Linked DNA regions of Homo sapiens: region 1 is linked to region 2. A link means that fine-mapping ties the variant in region 2 to the expression of a gene that starts in the linked region. Tissue or cell type: fetal neocortex. Region 2 holds a variant in brackets; the other region holds the start of a gene. All regions are shown on one strand. Distances are from middle to middle.

Region 1 (8,104 bases), 330 kb after region 2:
GGCCGAGCCCCAGCAGTGTCCTGATACATGACTTCTCCTAGGGGCACATTGGATGCTGAGGCAGTGAAGGAGGATCAAGGAATATTGGCAGACGTCTGCGGAGAAGAATGCCTATTCATTCGTGTCCTCTGTAGAGGTCATCATTCCTTTACATGACCTTCCATCAGAGATTATGGAATGGAAACTAGACAGATGGAGAGGCAGTGAGTTGTCAATGATACACAGAAGAAAATGGGAACCATTAAAACCTTGGGTATGAGTTCCAGAGGCAGCGCTGCTTAAGCATTATGAACTCTGTCCCTGGAATCATGTGGAGTCAAATTTGAATCCTGATAGACTGCCACTTAATAGATGCATGGTTGTAGGCTGGTTACTTTGACCTTTTCGAGCCTTAGTTTTTTAATCTGTGAGATGGGGATAATGTTAGCATAAATTTTGTTGAGTTGTCACAAGGGCAAAACAATGATGGAAACCACCAGCTTGCCATTGAGTTACATGAATTGTATATTTCCTTTGCACATTTCTTAGCCTGGAACCCAGAAGGCTTTGTGATCTTGCCAAGTCTCCAAGCCGGCTTTACAATGAATTACTTCATATTGTAATTGAGGTTACCTTTACTTGACTTAAGTGTATTAATTTAGAAAGGAATTTTATGTCAATCACTACCATGCACAGTAAGCCCGATTCCACAGCCTGACAAAGGCTCCAAGCCTATGGCCTGCTATCCCTTTGTACAAGCCTATGGCCTGCTACATTCCTTTTGTATCCCTTTGTTCAAAAATCCCTTTGTACAGCTCTCTCTCTGTTCGAGAGCTGTTAAAGACACATCGAGTCATTGCCCTGGCCATCGTCAGAAGCCAGAAGAACAGTAGGAAAGGGAGCTCTTTCGCTTGAGAGCTGGTGTTGGCGAGTGTCACTGCAGGCTGCTGCCTCAAATCATGGCGCCCGGCTTGCTTTAGGGACCAAGGACAATGCTGCCTCCTCTGATCATCCAGCTGAACACACTGTCTTCTTCTCTTAGCTCTGTGCGGCGTTTTATGTTCTCAGCATCCTGGATCCTTGGCGATCTATTTCTGAACTTCCTTACCTCAACTAGAGTAGAAGACCCAGAGGGCAGGGCCAGCTCCATCCTGGTATTTGGCTAGCACCTCCTGGTGCCTGAGAGGCTCATCCAGGGTTTGTTGATTTTTAGTCCCAGTGAAGACAAGTGGTGGTCGGCTTCAAGCTACTGAAGGCCATAGACCCAGAGAGTGGTCTAAGCAGCCATGATACCTCCTGTGTCTGAACATGGTACCCGGAAACCTCCTCCTACTCCTTTTCTCCTTTTAGCTGATTAGTATATTTTCTATTCCTCCAGCCATCCCCCAATCCAAGAACTTTTTATTTTGTTGAAGATGGAAATTTTAATTCCAAAGAGATAGTAATTATTATGGTCTGAATATTTGTCCTCTCCAGATTTATCTGTTGAAATCCTATCCATGAAGGTGATGATGTCAGGAGGTGGGGCCCTTGAGGGGTGATTAAGTCATGAGGGTTGCAGCCCTCATGAATGGGGTTGGTGTCCTTAGAAAAGAGACCCCCAGAGAGCTGCCTTGACCCTTCCACAACTGAGGATGCAGTGAGAAGTCACCATCCATGATCAGAAATCGAGCCCTTATTAAACACCGAATCTACCAGCACCTTGATCTTGGTTTTCCAGACCCCAAAAATGTGAAAAATAAAACTCTGCGGTTTATCAGCCACCCAGCTTATGGCGTTTTGTTATAGTAGCCCCAACAAACAAAGATAATACTAAAATGATCCAAATTCTAGCCCAGCAGGAACAGAAGATATTGTGAGTCTTGGGTTTTTCTTATTTTCAAAGCATCAAGTGCAAAAACAAACAAATAAACACTTGGATTCAAGGGCTAGGCAGGATGGGATGGGAGTGGGGGGATGGAGAACTTCAGCATCAGCTTCAGTGCTGGAAGCTTGAGTGCTACTCTAGTTACTGCAGCTCTGTACCAATTTACCCAGAGTTTAGTGCTGTAAAACAACCATTTATTATGCTCATGGATTGTGTGGGTGGGAAGTTCGGACAGGGTACAGCGGGACAGCTATTCCTCAGTTGGAAGTCTTGAGGGCTGGGAGCTCAAATCATCGGAAGGCACATTCACTCAGGTCAGTGGCTGACACTGGTGGTCGGCTGGGAGGCCTCGGTTTCTCTCCACGTAGGTTTCTCCAGGTGATCTCTCCAGGTGGGCTTGTTAGGGCTTCCTCCTGGTACAGCAGCTGTGTTCAGAGGACAGGTGTCCTGAGCTATCAAGCCAGGGGGATGTTGTAGCACTCTTTTGGACTGTCCTCAGAAACTGCTCTGGTCACTTCAGCTGCTTTCTAGTTTTCAGAAGCTGGTCGTTAAGGCTAGTAGAGGGCAGGACCCAATTCAACCCCATTTTTTAGAGATGAGGTCTCGCTATGTTGCCCAGGCTGGTCTTGAACTCCCAGGCTCAAGCAATCCATCCACCTTGGCCTCTCAAAGAGCTGGAATTACAGATGTGAAGCACTGCCCCTCCCCCAACCCCATCTGTTATGAAAGGAGGGTCCTTTGACCACAAGTGCCCTGAGAAGTCAGGAGGACTTCCCAGTCTCAGACATTTTTATCTGAGCTGGAGATGGGGACAGCCTCCCACACACAGGACTTGGAAGGCTATGAAGGAAGTAGGGGGCTCTCTTGGGAGGTCATTTCCCTTGGTAGGGACGGTTGTGTGAATGAACTTGGCCTTTAGGGAGAGGAGCCCGACTCTCACCTGAAGCCACCCAACCTGTGCAGATGGCTGAGGAAGCCCTGGACACCACAGGACCGCTAACCCAGGATCTTTGTTGACTTTGCTCCCAGGCCACTGCCCCACACGCAGGCTCTGAACTCCTGGGAGAGGTAGGGAGCCAGCCCGAGGCGTGAGTCAAGAGTGTAAAGTACACCGAGTTCCTTGGCAAGCAGGCTCTTCAAGGGGAAGGTGTCACTCGGGGAACAATGAGAAATGTGTCTTTCCCTCAGCCCCTGATAGAAAAGATAACACCCCTTGAGCACAGCCTTTTCTCATCTGTTCTTGCTCTTGGATGGGGGGCTGCTACTCCGGAGCGGCGAACTGGCGGGCGGGGGTGCGCCTGTGAGTGTGAGCGCGCGTGTGCGTGTGTGCGCGCGCTCTCGTGGCCTTCCGGCAGCTGGCAGCTGTCCCGGCCCCCACCCCACCCTACCCCACCCCACCCAGCCGCGCCACGCCACGCCGCCCCCGCCCCTCGCTGTCCTGGGTGCGCCTCGGGCCGCTGCGCTCCTGGCCAGCTCCCCCCAGCGCCTGGGAGGCGACCCCCAGTGCGCCCGGGTTCAAAGGCCCGGCGAGGCAGTTCCAGCCCCTCTGGGGGGCGGGGAGGCGACGGGGGTGGTGCAGAAGCCAGAAAAGCCCGAGCCACAGCCGGCCAGCTCCGCGCAGGGATGGGCAGCGCGCTCTGAAAGTTTATGACCGCCGCAGCCAACTCCTGGCCGGAGCTGGAGACGCAGCGAGCGATCGGCCGGCCTCGAACCCCCACAGCTGGAGGGCGAGGCCAGCTGTACCCGGCCCCAGTGCCCTTTCGCGGCCACAAGCGGCCGTCCTCCTGGTCCGGTGCTCCGGCGCCTGATCTAGGTTCATGGAGCCGGGGCTGTGGCTCCTTTTCGGGCTCACAGTGACCTCCGCCGCAGGTAAGCGCACGGGGCGGCGCGCCTCTCCTGGCGCGAGCGCACACAAAAGGACCCAGGGCGGGGGACCCGAGGCGCGGAGAAGATGTGCGTCGCGGGGAGCAAACTCTTGCCTGGGCTCTGCACTCGTGAAGACGCCTGGGGGAGGGCTGGGGAGCAGAAGCGGCGCGCAACGACTACCCGCACGGGCTCCGGGAGTTGCAGCCCGCGCACTGGCTGGAGACCTGCTGCCTGGGCCGACTTGGTCAATTTTTCATGAAACTGGGGACTTTTCAGAAAGTTTGCGAACTATTCAGAGGCTGTGCCAAACCCTGGCAAAGTTTGCAGAAAGTATGCAAAATGCATGCAAGTTTTCAACGGGTGCAGATAGCTTGCAAGCTTTTCACAGAGTGTGCAGATAGCTTGGAAACTTTTCAGAAACTGCGCAGAGCTTTGGAAACTTTGCAGACATTTTGCTTGCTCCACCCCCCTCCTCAGGTGTTTGGGGGTGGCGGGTGTTGAGGGGTCTGCACACTCAGCTTAGGAGCCCCTCAATCTGCCTTCTGCAGGATTCGTGCCTTGCTCCCAGTCTGGGGATGCTGGCAGGCGCGGCGTGTCCCAGGCCCCCACTGCAGCCAGATCTGAGGGGGACTGTGAAGAGACTGTGGCTGGCCCTGGCGAGGAGACTGTGGCTGGCCCTGGCGAGGGGACTGTGGCCCCGACAGCACTGCAGGGTCCAAGCCCTGGAAGCCCTGGGCAGGAGCAGGCGGCCGAGGGGGCCCCTGAGCACCACCGATCCAGGCGCTGCACGTGCTTCACCTACAAGGACAAGGAGTGTGTCTACTATTGCCACCTGGACATCATTTGGATCAACACTCCCGAGTAAGTCAGCCTTTTGTGGTGAGGAACGTGGCTCCCGGACCAGGCCCACATCTGCTCATTCCCAGGAGGACCTCACTCCACCCCAGCCCCGCTCAGTTAGCCCAGAGCCTGCCCTGGCACAGCCTTTAGCTCTTGCTGGGGCCTCTTGCCAGCCCAGGTCTCTTCTGCAGGTCAGGGGTGTGACCCACATCCCCCCTGAGGGCCTGGCCCAAGAGAAACTCAATCCTGAGTTTGATCCTGTGGAAGGAGGAGCCCTCCCTCTGAATGAAGTGAACTGACCAGGGGGATTAGATACCTGAGATGTCTCTCTGAGCCTCTTTTCTGAGATAGAGAAAGCCCCGAAAGTTTATCTCATTCCCCAGGGGCCAAGGGGGCTCATACTCACTGTTGACCCCACCAGGATCCAAGGGGTTTAAAATTCCTTGAAAGCATCCTGGTCTCCAGGGAGTCTAAGGGTGGGTTTAGCTGAGCCTGACAGAACCTGCACAGTCCACTCGGGGTAGAATTCCCCTGGGATGGGCTCCCTTCCTTCCTGTGGGCCCCCCTGGATGCCAAGGCAGGGTGAATTCACATCAGCTCGTCCTTGGGCCTTCCACAGGCTGGCTCCAGTCACCCACTGCCATGGTCACAGAGGGCCTTCCCTTCTCTCCTGCAGTCCTTAGAAACTCTCTTACCCTAGGGCCTAGACAGCACCATCCTGAATTTGTCTTGGGGTTCGTCCAGTGGGGAAGTCAGCCTTCTCCTGGGGCCATGTGGAGAGAGTGTGGCTCTGACAGGGGGAGGCTTTGATGACTCCCAGTGTTCAGGGAACCCCTCCTGCAGGCACATCATCTTGCAGGCCATACAGAGGGCTTGACCTTGCCTGGGTCACCAACTCTCTGGCATTGGCTTCCCCATCTCTAAGATCTGGGACTTGGATCAGACACCTCTAAGTTCTGTTCCCTGGGTGTTCATGGGATCTCTTGGGACTCTTGCTTGTACCCTATTAGGGATTCTTAGCTGAGAACTCAGAGATGGTTGTGAATGCAAGCCCCTGGAAGCCTGGAAAGGCACCTTTGCCACCGTGTCCCGGAGCCGTCTTGATTCAGGTTCCTCACGGTCACCTTTATCCCCAAGCCCCATAACCTCTGAGCCCTTGGTAGCAGCTTTCATGGGGCTCACTTACCTACCTTGTGTCATCGGCACCTCAAAAATGAAGTGCAGACGAGGGTAGTAAACCTGAGGGGTGGAATGTCTTTCAGACCAGGGGACAAGACCTCTAATCACATCCATGATAGATCTGGAACATCACCCCACCATGCTTGAAGGGCAGGCAGGGGCTTCACATTGAGCCAGCAGGACACGTGCACAAAGTCCTGCACTCAGAAAGACTCTGGCTCGGCTTAAAGTCCTGCTGTCACTGTCTTGAAATCCTTAATACTTTCTGAACAAAGAGCTGCACATTTGCATTTTCTCCTGGGTCCCATAAATTCTGTAGCTGGTCGTGATACCCTGATTTGCTGGCTGGGCTGTGTCCACCTAGAGGATGGGAGGTGCCTCCCTGTTTCTTTCCCTTTGTGGGGAAGATAGAAGCTGTGAGTGTTGGGCCATCATCAATTGCCTCTTATCCTCAGATAGCGAGGGGAGTCACCTTTCCTTGTAGCCCCTGCACCTTGGCACTGCCCTTTCTGATTCTTATCCTGCATCATTGTGCTCTGATCAAATTCACTTCATAGAATGGAGGGCACTGGGCAGTCACCAGGAACCGAGTTCTTGTCTTGGCCAGAATCCCCAGCTGTGAATCTAGAAGGAGAAAGAAGAAAGCTAATGGAATTACAGACAGGAACCTGGGGTGGTGGGCAGGTGGGAGAGGATTTGGAAACCATCTCTTTCATTCGTTGCCTGTTTACCAAACCCCGGAGCACTGGCTGGGGAGGAAGTGATGACTTGAGACATGTCTGAGAGTCTCAACCAACACCCTGTGATCTGTTTAAAATTCTGTCTCATGCATCCTGCGATCTGTTTGAAGTCCTGTCTCATGATTTCGAGTTTGTCCTGAAATGAAGCTGTGGCTCTCTGACTTTTTCCAGGACAGCCAACTTGATAACTTTCCCCCTGAAGTGTGATTTACCTCTTCCCTTCCTTCCCGACACTGGTTCAATTTAAACATGATGAAAGAAGGATTAAATCTGGTGTTTGGGCATCCCCTGAGCTACTTGGGAAACAAAAACGACAATAGCCAGACTTGAGCATTTTGAAATTAGACAGGTAAAATAATTTTTATGAGGCAGAACTTCCCAAATGGCCTCCTTCCCTCCCTTCCTGCCTCCCTCCTTTCTTTCTTACCCTCCAAACTTCCTCCTGCCCTCCCTCCCTCTCCCCCTCCCTTCTTTCCCTCTTTCCTTTCCCTTCTTTTCCCTCCCTCCTTCCCTTCCTTCCTGAAACTCTGTAGATGTGTAGATAGGTCTGTTGTCATCTTTAAAATATCTCAGGCAAGACTGCAATTTGAGAAAATGGGCTGTGGTGACAGGGAACAGGAGTGATGGGGAGGAATCTAAAAAATCACTGAATTGAGCAAAAGAGGCACTGGAAGTGAGGGACACAGTCTTTTCTAGTGGTTCTGTCTCCCCATTAGATCACAACCCCACCTGTCACATGTTCCCCTCTCCTGCTGTCACGCCCTCTTCATTCATGGACTGGTCTCCCTCTCCAAACTTCTCCACCAGGTGTGATTTCTCCCTGTCCCAGCGGCAGCTGTTCTGGGCACGAGAAGGAGCCTTGATTCTTGTGCCTCAGTCAGGGGTCTTGAACTTTGGGTGCTTTTCACCTTTCAGAGCCTTTCCTCCCATGGCGCATCCAGCTGCGTGAAGACAGAATCAACACTCCTAGTTGATCTTTGATGGAAATTGCTCTGAGTACGGTCATTTTTGCTCCCTTCGAGGATCTGAGATGCTGCAGGAGTCATATTGGGAGTTACTACCGAGACCCGCTTTGCATCTCCTCAAGGGAAGTTAACTGTCTAGTTCAGGCTCAAGAGACTAGTTGGTCTCTTAAGTCTCTTTTGGAAAGAAGGTCTGAGATTCCTCGGCTGTCCCTTTAGCCCTCCTGCTTTTTTCCCCTCCTTAGTCCTTCCAGACCCGAGCTTGGTCGGCCCTTTCTGTTAGCACCCAGCATGGCATGGATGCTCAGGAAATGCTGGTTGACTTTTGGCTAAGTCCTGCCACCTGGGTACTCTGGCTCATCTTTGCTGTTGCTGAGCCCCTAAATCTCCAGTGCCTTCTCCCACACAGGAGGCCTCTTTCTCCAGGTGCCTGGCTGCTCTTCAGGGGCCTGCACATCCCTGTAGACAGGGGTGGGCAAGAGAGTTTTTCTTGGGGATGTTGCCCATAACTTCTGTGATATCTTCCCAAAAGTCCATCGCCCCAAAGAGGAACCAAATTTATACTTACCCTGTCAAGGCTGCTGGGATCACAGTTCATCAATGGGATAGCATGATTTCCATTAGCCTTTCCTTGGCTGTCCCCCACAGTCCCCAAGCCATCCCACCACTGC
Region 2 (8,104 bases):
AGTCCGCCTGCCATTAGAGAAGAGGATGCCAACTAAGAGCAAGAAACTGAAGCAATACAGGACGAGGCAGGTTCCTAATTTCTTGTTTGAGTTTCTGGACCTATTCATGCATGAAGCTGGGTCAGCCCACAGACTTCCCAGATACATTAGCCAATATTTGGTTTTCTACTTTTTTTTTTTTCTTTTTGAGACGGAGTCTCACTCTGTCACCTGGGCTGGAGTGCAGTGGCACCATCTCGGCTCACTGCCACCTCTGCCCTCCCGGGTTCATGCGATTCTCCTGCCTCAGCCTTCCCAGTAGCTGGGATTACAGGTGCACACCACCGCACCCTGCTAATTTTTTGTATTTTTAGTAGAGACGGGGTTTCACTATGTTGGCCAGACTGGTCTCGAACTCTTGACCTCATGATTCAACCGCCTCGGCCTCCCAAAGTGCTGGGATTACAGGCGTGGGCCACAGCTCCCAGCCCGTTTTCTACTTCTTATAGCTCAAAGAGCCTGAATGAATACATATGCACTGTGCAGTGCAAGCATGACTGTCTTAGGTCAGGTTCTCTCTAAAGCAGACCCTGAGATGACAATTCACGTGCAAATAATTATTTACTCCCAGGAGAAGTTGATTAGTGAAGTGAGGTGTCATATCTTGCAAAATCTCACTTCATCATGATCCTCTAGGTATCTCTAGAGCATAAATTACACTTCAGAGTTGGTCCTACGTTGAGGTTGGTTTTCATACTCCTGCATGTGTCAGTCATTGGCTAAGAACTCTGCCCCAAGGACATATAAACTTTCCAGCATCTCTGCTCTTGGGGAGTTCTTGGGAGGTGGCATCAGTAACCCAAGATAGACTGAAGATAGTCGCAAGTGCAAGCCCTTAGAAACACAGACCTCAGAAGCTGGGAGATGCATGTGCCAAGCTGGTCAGGGGTTCTCAGAGAACCTGGCTGGAGCACCACAGTGTCCACTACAGAAAGAAAAGCAAGGAAAGAGGCCAAACGGAGAGTCAGGAATTGCTGGGGGCTCCATGCGAACAAGTCTAAGAGATAAAAATGCCAGGGGGACCCAGTCGTCAGGGTGCCCCCCCCCAACCCCCCGCCGCCACTTCTGTGTTTGACCTCCAGGAGCGCTACTGGGTCCTCACAGTGAATGTCAGAGAAAAATCCCCTCAGGCTCCTGGCAGAGGGACGGGAAAAGGAATCATTTTGAAATATACCAGGGCATTCTGTTCTTTTTTACAAGGTCTGTCAACAGGAGAAACTAACCAGAGCCTAACCAGCTGGGCTTTTATCAGAACCTAACTGACCCAGGCCAAAAACAAAACAACAAAACAAAACAAAGCAAAAAAACTCAAAACCTAGGTGGCCCCAGCCTTCCACACGGGAGAAGGGAAATCACCAACTCCAGCCCACTCTGGCTGTTCTATCCCCCTAAGACGAGAGGGGGACTGAGAAGCACTTGTGAAACTCACAGTCTGAGAACACAGGCTCATTGAGAGACTGAGACCTAGTCATAGGACTACAGAATGCTTCTCCTCTCCCTACACCTTACCAACACATTACTAAAGGCCTATTTACAACAGTTCCATTTATCTAGTACATCATGTCCAGCAATCAAGAAAAAATTACAAGATATACTAAAAGGCAAAAAAACAAACAAACAAACAAAAAAAACACATGGTTTGAAGACACAGAGCAAGCATCGAAACCAGACTCATATGTGGTAAGGATGTCGGATGATCAGAACAGAAATCTAAAAGAACCATGATTAGTGTGCTAAGGCACCAATGGACACAGTATACATCATGCAAGAACAGATGGGCAATGTAAGCAGAGAGTTAGAAATTCTATGAAAGAATCAAAAAGAAATGCTAGAGATCAAAAACACTGTAACAGAAAAAAGGAATCCCTTTGATGGTCTTATTAGTAGACTGGACACAACTGAGGAAAGAATCTTTGAGCCTGAGGATATCTCAGTAAAAGCCTCCAAAAATGAGGCCAGGCGCAGTGGCTCACGCCTGTAATCCCAGCATTTTAGGAGGCCGAGGTGGGTGGATCATTTGAGGTCAGGAGTTCAAGATCAGCCTGACCAACATGATGAAACCCTATCTCTACTAAAAATACAAAATCAGCTGGGTGTGGTGGCGGGCGTCTGTAATACCAGCCACTCAAGAGGCTGAGGCAGAAGAATCTCTTGAACCTGGGAAGTGGAGGTTGCAGTGAGCCGAGATTGTGCCACTGCACTCCAGTCTGGGCAACAAGAGCGAAACTCCATCTCAAAAACAAACAAACAAACAAACCTCCAAAAATGAAAAGCAAATAGGAAAAAAGACTTAAAAAAAATAGAGCAAAATATCCAAGAACAATGAGGCAACTACAAAGGGGTAACAGATGCATAGTGTAATACCAGAAGAAGAAGGAAAGAAAGGAACAGAAGAAATATTGGAATAATAATGACTGAGAGTTTCTACAAATTCATGATCCAAACCACAGAGCCAAGAAACTCAGAGAACACCAAACAGGATAAATGCAAAAACAACAAAAACAACAACAACAAAAACCCACACCTAGACATACCATTTTCAAACTACAGAAAATCAAAGATAAAGAAAAAATCAGAAAGAAGTCTAAGGAAAAAAAATCCTGCCTCATAATTCTTACAAAGAATTACGTCCAGCTTCTCAGAAACCATGCAAGCAAAAAGAGAGTGGAGTGAAATATGTAAAATGTTGAGAGAAAAAAACTCTCCAACCTAGAATTCTGTACCCTGTGAAATTGTCCTTCAAAAGTCAAGGAGAAATGAAGAGTTTCTCAGACAAACATAAATTGAGGAAATTTGTTGCCAGTAGATCTGTCATGCAGAAAATGTTAAAAGAAGTTCTTTAGAGAAAAAGAAATTGGTATAGGTCAGACTCTTGGATCTGCATAGGGAAAAGAAGAGCATCAGAGAAGAAATTAGTCAATGTAAAGTAACAATTTCTATTTTTCTTATTCTTAGTTGATTTAAAAGATAGCACTTTCTTCAAAATAATAATACCAACAACTTACTTGGTTATATGTATGCTTCTATATATGCTAATGTATATATGCTTATATATGTGTGTGTGTGTATGCACAGACAGTGTCCCGAGTCCCTGGGTGCAGTCCTTCCAGAGGCCACCGTGACTCTGTCTGTCCTGCTCAGGGGAACTGGTTCATTTCCTCCCACCTGCCCTTTTGTTCTTTTTCACTCCAGGTCATAAGGTCCTGACCATTACGGGGACCCTCCTTTGCTCCAATCAGGTGTGGCCTGGGAGCTGGGTCACAGAAAGCAAGGCAGCATCTCTGGACAGGTCTCTTCAAGATATTGTGACCTGAAGGGAGGTTTGGGCAAGGCGGCCCCTGGCAGTTTCTGCACCTGGGCGCTGAGCACAGGGGGCCCCTGGGGAGGGACCACCCAGCTCCTGCCTTCCCTGAGAACTGCCTGTTCCCCCAGTTGAAGGAATGGTGTCAGCGTTCCATGCCTCAGTCTCACCTGGCCATGGCAGATTGGACTGGGGTGGATACCTGCCCCAAGCCTGGGCAATTACGTTCTCTTTCGCAGGTATTGAAACTGGGACCAGAGACTGTAGTTCAGAGATGCTGGTGGCTGCAGCAGAGAGGTGGTGCAGGGATGCAGCTGGGGAGTCTGACACCGCTTAGCTGCAGGGCTGTGGCTACAATGTGCTTGCTGAGAGACACAATACACAGTACTCAAGCTCGTCAATCAGAGCGCTGTAACAATGGTGAGTTCCTGGTAGCCATTTCGTGTCTTTGGTAGCCCTCTCTTGCCCCAAGGCCACATTTTCTTGATCCAGGAATAGACCCATCATCTAGGTTAGGTTATCAGAGTCTCTAACGCATGATACTGGACTCGAGGCTAGAATATTGCATGGGTTTTTGTTCGTTTGTTTTTAGAGACAGGGTCTTGCTCCATCACCCAGGCTGGAGTGCAGTGGCCCAATCATAGCTCCCTGCAGCCTCCAGCTCCTGGGATCAAGCGATCCTCCCACCTCTGCCTCCGCCTCTCAAGTACCTAAGACGATAGGTGCGAGCCACTGTGCTACTGGCTTTCAGTCTTCACCTGAATAACTTATTAAATGGTGGGGCTTGGATATAGGCACTGTTGATACTTTCTGCTATGTAAACTGAAATGCATGGGACATTCTGTTGAGAGAGGGAGACGGCAGCAGATGCAGAATGAGGAGAGTCCTGACAGCATTCCACAGCCTGTGGCTGTTTTCCCTGCCCACCTGTCTTTGTTTCCACATAAAGGGAATTTATGATAAATCCTCTATTTTCTTTCTTTTTTTTTTTTGATGGAGTCTCACTCGCACCCTGGCTGGAGTGCAGTGGTGCAATCTCGGCTCACTGCAAGCTCCACCTCCCGGGTTCATGCCATTCTCCTGCCTCAGCCTCCCAAGTAGCTGGGACTACGGGCGCC[C/A]GCCACCATGCCTGGCTAATTTTTTTGTATTTTTTTAGTAGAGATGGGGTTTCACCATGTTAGCCAGGATGGTCTCAATCTCTTGACCTCGTGATTTGCCTGCCTTGGCCTCCCAAAGTGCTGGGATTACAGGCGTGAGCCAAAATTGTCTATTTACTTAGGTTACTATCTAGTTTGTTTTTTTTTTAAAAAAAACAGAATCTTGCTCTGTCACCCAAGCTGGAGTGCAATGGCGTGATCTCAGCTCACTGCATCCTCTACCTCCCAGGTTCAAACGATTTTCCTGCCTCAGCCTCCCAAGTAGCTGGGATTACATGCACATGACACGACACCCAGCTAATTTTTTGTACTTTTAGTAGAGACAGGGTTTCATCATGTTGGCCATGCTGGTTTTGAACTCCCAACCTCAAGTGATCTGCCCGCTTCATCCTCCCAAAGTGCTGGGATTACAGGTGTGAGCCACCGCACCCGGCTTTTTTTTTTTTTTTTTTTTTTTTTTTTTTGAGACAGAGTTTTGCTGTCGCCCAGGCTGGAGTGCAGTGGTGCGATCTCGGCTCACTGCAACCTCTACCTCCCAGGTTCAAGCAGTTCTCCTGCCTCAACCTCCCAAGTAGCTGGGATTACTGATGCATGCCACCATGTCTGGCTAGTTTTTGTATTTTTAGTAGAGACTGGGTTTCAGCATGTTGGCCAAGCTGGTCTTGAACTCCTGACCTTGGGTAATCCACCTGCCTCAGCCTCCCAAAATGCTGGGATTACAGATGTGAGCCACCACGCCCAGCCTAGTTCTTGAATCCAAATTTCCTTACCAACCCAGCAAGGAAGCGATAAATTGAAAATTTCATTTAAAGGAGTCCCCAAGCCACTCAGTAGTATTTATCAACAGGATTAGGTAAATGTAACATAGTATGGAATTATTAATAATTAATTTCCTCCAATAAAGCTGAATATAAAGGTAAGAGACATTGAAATTATATTACGAAGAGTGAAATAACTGAAAATGACACAAGTGAGATTGTTCTAAAAGTTTCTTAGAATCTTAGGACACATTTGCTCACTCATTCAAGCTAGGTCAAGCAAAAAAAGGAATTAATTGGAAGGACAAAGGAATGGGACCTCATGGCAACAATGGTCAAAAATGCAGTTACTCATGAAGAATCAGTACCTAGTAAGTCAGAAGAGTGTACTGTGGTGTCTCTCAGGAACCACATGACCCCTCGGCCCTGCAGCTCAGCGGTGTCTGACTCCCCAGCTCCAGCCCTGCACCACCTCTCTGCTGCAGCCACCAACGTCTCTGAACTGCAGTCTTTGGTCCCAGTTTCAATACCTAGGAAAGAGAACTTAATTGCCCAGCCTTGGGGCAAGGGTCCACCCCAGTCCAATCTGCCATGGCCAGGTGAGATCAGGGCATGGAACGCTGACACAGAAGCTGGCACTGTCCCTTTAGAAAGCGTTGGGGGACAGGCCGTTCTCAGGGAAGGCAGGAGCTGGGTAGTCCTCCCTGAAGTGCCTCTGTACTCCGCACCCAGGTGCAGAAACCGTAAGGGGCCGCCTTGCTCAAACCTCCCTTCAGGGCACCCGTCCAGAGACACTGCCTTACTTTCTGCCTTACTTTCTGCCAGGTGATCCTGACTCCCAGGCCACTCCTGACTGGAGCAAAGGAGGGTCCCTGTAATGGTCAGGACCTTTTTCAATGGTGAGTCTTGAAATTCAAATGACCTGAAGTGAAAGAGAAAAAAGGGCAAGTGGGAGGCAATGAACCAGCACACCTCAGCAGGAAGGACAGAGTCATGGTGGCTTCTGGAAGGACTGGACCCAGGACCCAGGGACTCAGGACACTGTCTGACCCTCTGTCTTCTCCGCTCGTTTTTGCTTCTCCCTATGGAATGCCCTCATCCTCTCCGCCTGGGACCTCATATGCATCATGCCAGGAAGCACGGCAGGAGGCCCTTCAGATTGATGTTTGACCATCCCTACAATGAAGGCAAAAGCAGCCTTTCTCCAATTTGAGCTTGAAAAATCCTCCATGAGGACTCGTTAGGAAAATATACATATATATATATACACATATGTGACAAAAAATTAAAACAAACAAAAGTGGAAAAATTGTACTTTTAAAAAATGTTATGTACTCATCACTGGATTTCAACAATTATCAACAAACGGGCAATCATGTTTCATCTGTACATCCACCCTCCACTGGATTATTTTAAAGCAAATCCCAAATATTCTGTCACTTCCTCTGAAATACTTCTGACGTATCGTAAGGAGTTTTAAAAACTTAATCATAATGCCAATATCATGCTAAAAAATTAGCAAAAATGCCTTAATACCATCAGCATAGTCAACCAGTGTTCACATTTCTCTAGCTGTCTTAAAAATTGAAAAACTGGACCAGAGCAATTGGGCAAGAGAAAGAAGTAAAGGGGATCCAAATTGGAAGGGAAGAAGTCAAGTTAGCCTTGTTCACAAACAACATGATCTTATACCTAAAATAACCCAAAGATTTCACCAAAAAACCATTAGAACTGATAAACAAATTTGGTAAATTTGCAGGATACAAAATCAACATCCAAAAGTCAGTAGCACTTATATATGTCAATAGCGAACAATCTGTTAAAAAAAATCAAGAAAGCAATCGCATTTATAATAGCTACAAAGAATATTAAATACCTAGGAATCAATCTAACCAAAGAAGTGAAAGGTCTATACAAGGAAAACTATAAAACTCCAATGAAAAAAATAGAAAAGGACATACAAAAAAGTGAAAAGATATTCCATCCTCATGGATTGAAAGAATTAATAGTATTGAAATGACAATACTATCCAAAGCAATTTACAGATTCAATGCAATCGCTATCAGAAATACCAATGACATTCACAGAAATAGAAAAAAAAATCCTAAAATTTATATAGAACCACAAAAGACTCTGTATTGCCAAAGCAATCCTAAGCAAAAAGAACAAAGTTGGAGGCATCACACTACAAACTTCAAAATATATTACAAAGCTATAGTAACCCAAACAGCATGGCACTGGCATAAAAACAGACAAATATACCAATAGAACAGAATAGAGGACCCAGATATAAATCCACACATTCATATCCAATTCATCTTTGACAAAGGTACAAAGAACGTACAATGGAAAAAGGATAGTCTTTTCAACAAATGCTGCTGGAAAAACTGGATAAACTATATGCAGAAGAATGAAACTAAACCCCTATCACTCAGCATACACAAAAATCAAATCAAAATGGATTAAGATTTGAATGTAACACCTGAAATTATGAAACTACTAAAAGAGAACATTTGGAAAATGCTCCAAGACATTGGTCTCGGGCAAGCAAAGATTTTTTTGTGTAAGACCTCACAAGTACAAACAACAAAAGCAAGTGAAAATAGACAGATGGGATTACATCAAGCTAAACAGCAAAGGAAACAATCAACAAAATGAAGAGACAACTCACAGAATGGCAGGAAATATTTGCAAACTACCCATTTGACAAGGGATTCATAATCAGAATATATAAGAAGCTCAAACAACAGCAAAAACAAAACAAAACAAAATACAATCTGATTTTTAAATGGGCAAAAGATTGGAATAGACATTTCTCAAAAGAAGCCATACAAATGGCTAACAGGTAT

Alleles and levels. Positions count from the first base shown, and alleles are read on the strand shown. Sizes are in standard deviations (SD) of each study's normalised expression.
For the expression in fetal neocortex of the gene that starts at base 3,462 in region 1, allele A in region 2 goes with a lower level than allele C (large effect, 2.0 SD a copy in Walker 2019).

Evidence for each region. PIP is the estimated chance that this variant, and not a neighbour inherited with it, causes the effect.
Region 1: it holds the start of EDN3, and the variant in region 2 is fine-mapped to the expression of EDN3 in fetal neocortex (Walker 2019, PIP 0.95).

The regions. Positions count from the first base shown.
Region 1 is chr20:59,297,150-59,305,253 of GRCh38, forward strand. EDN3 (endothelin 3) reads left to right here and starts at 3,462. Exons shown (of 5, transcript NM_207034.3): 1 at 3,462-3,715; 2 at 4,261-4,573. The coding sequence starts at 3,664.
Region 2 is chr20:58,962,152-58,970,255 of GRCh38, forward strand. It overlaps LOC107985382 (a long non-coding RNA gene), which reads right to left and starts at 5,703. Exons shown (of 4, transcript XR_001754727.2): 1 at 5,624-5,703; 2 at 1-7. RefSeq lists an enhancer at 3,495-4,047. The variant C/A (reference allele first, on the strand shown) is at 4,459.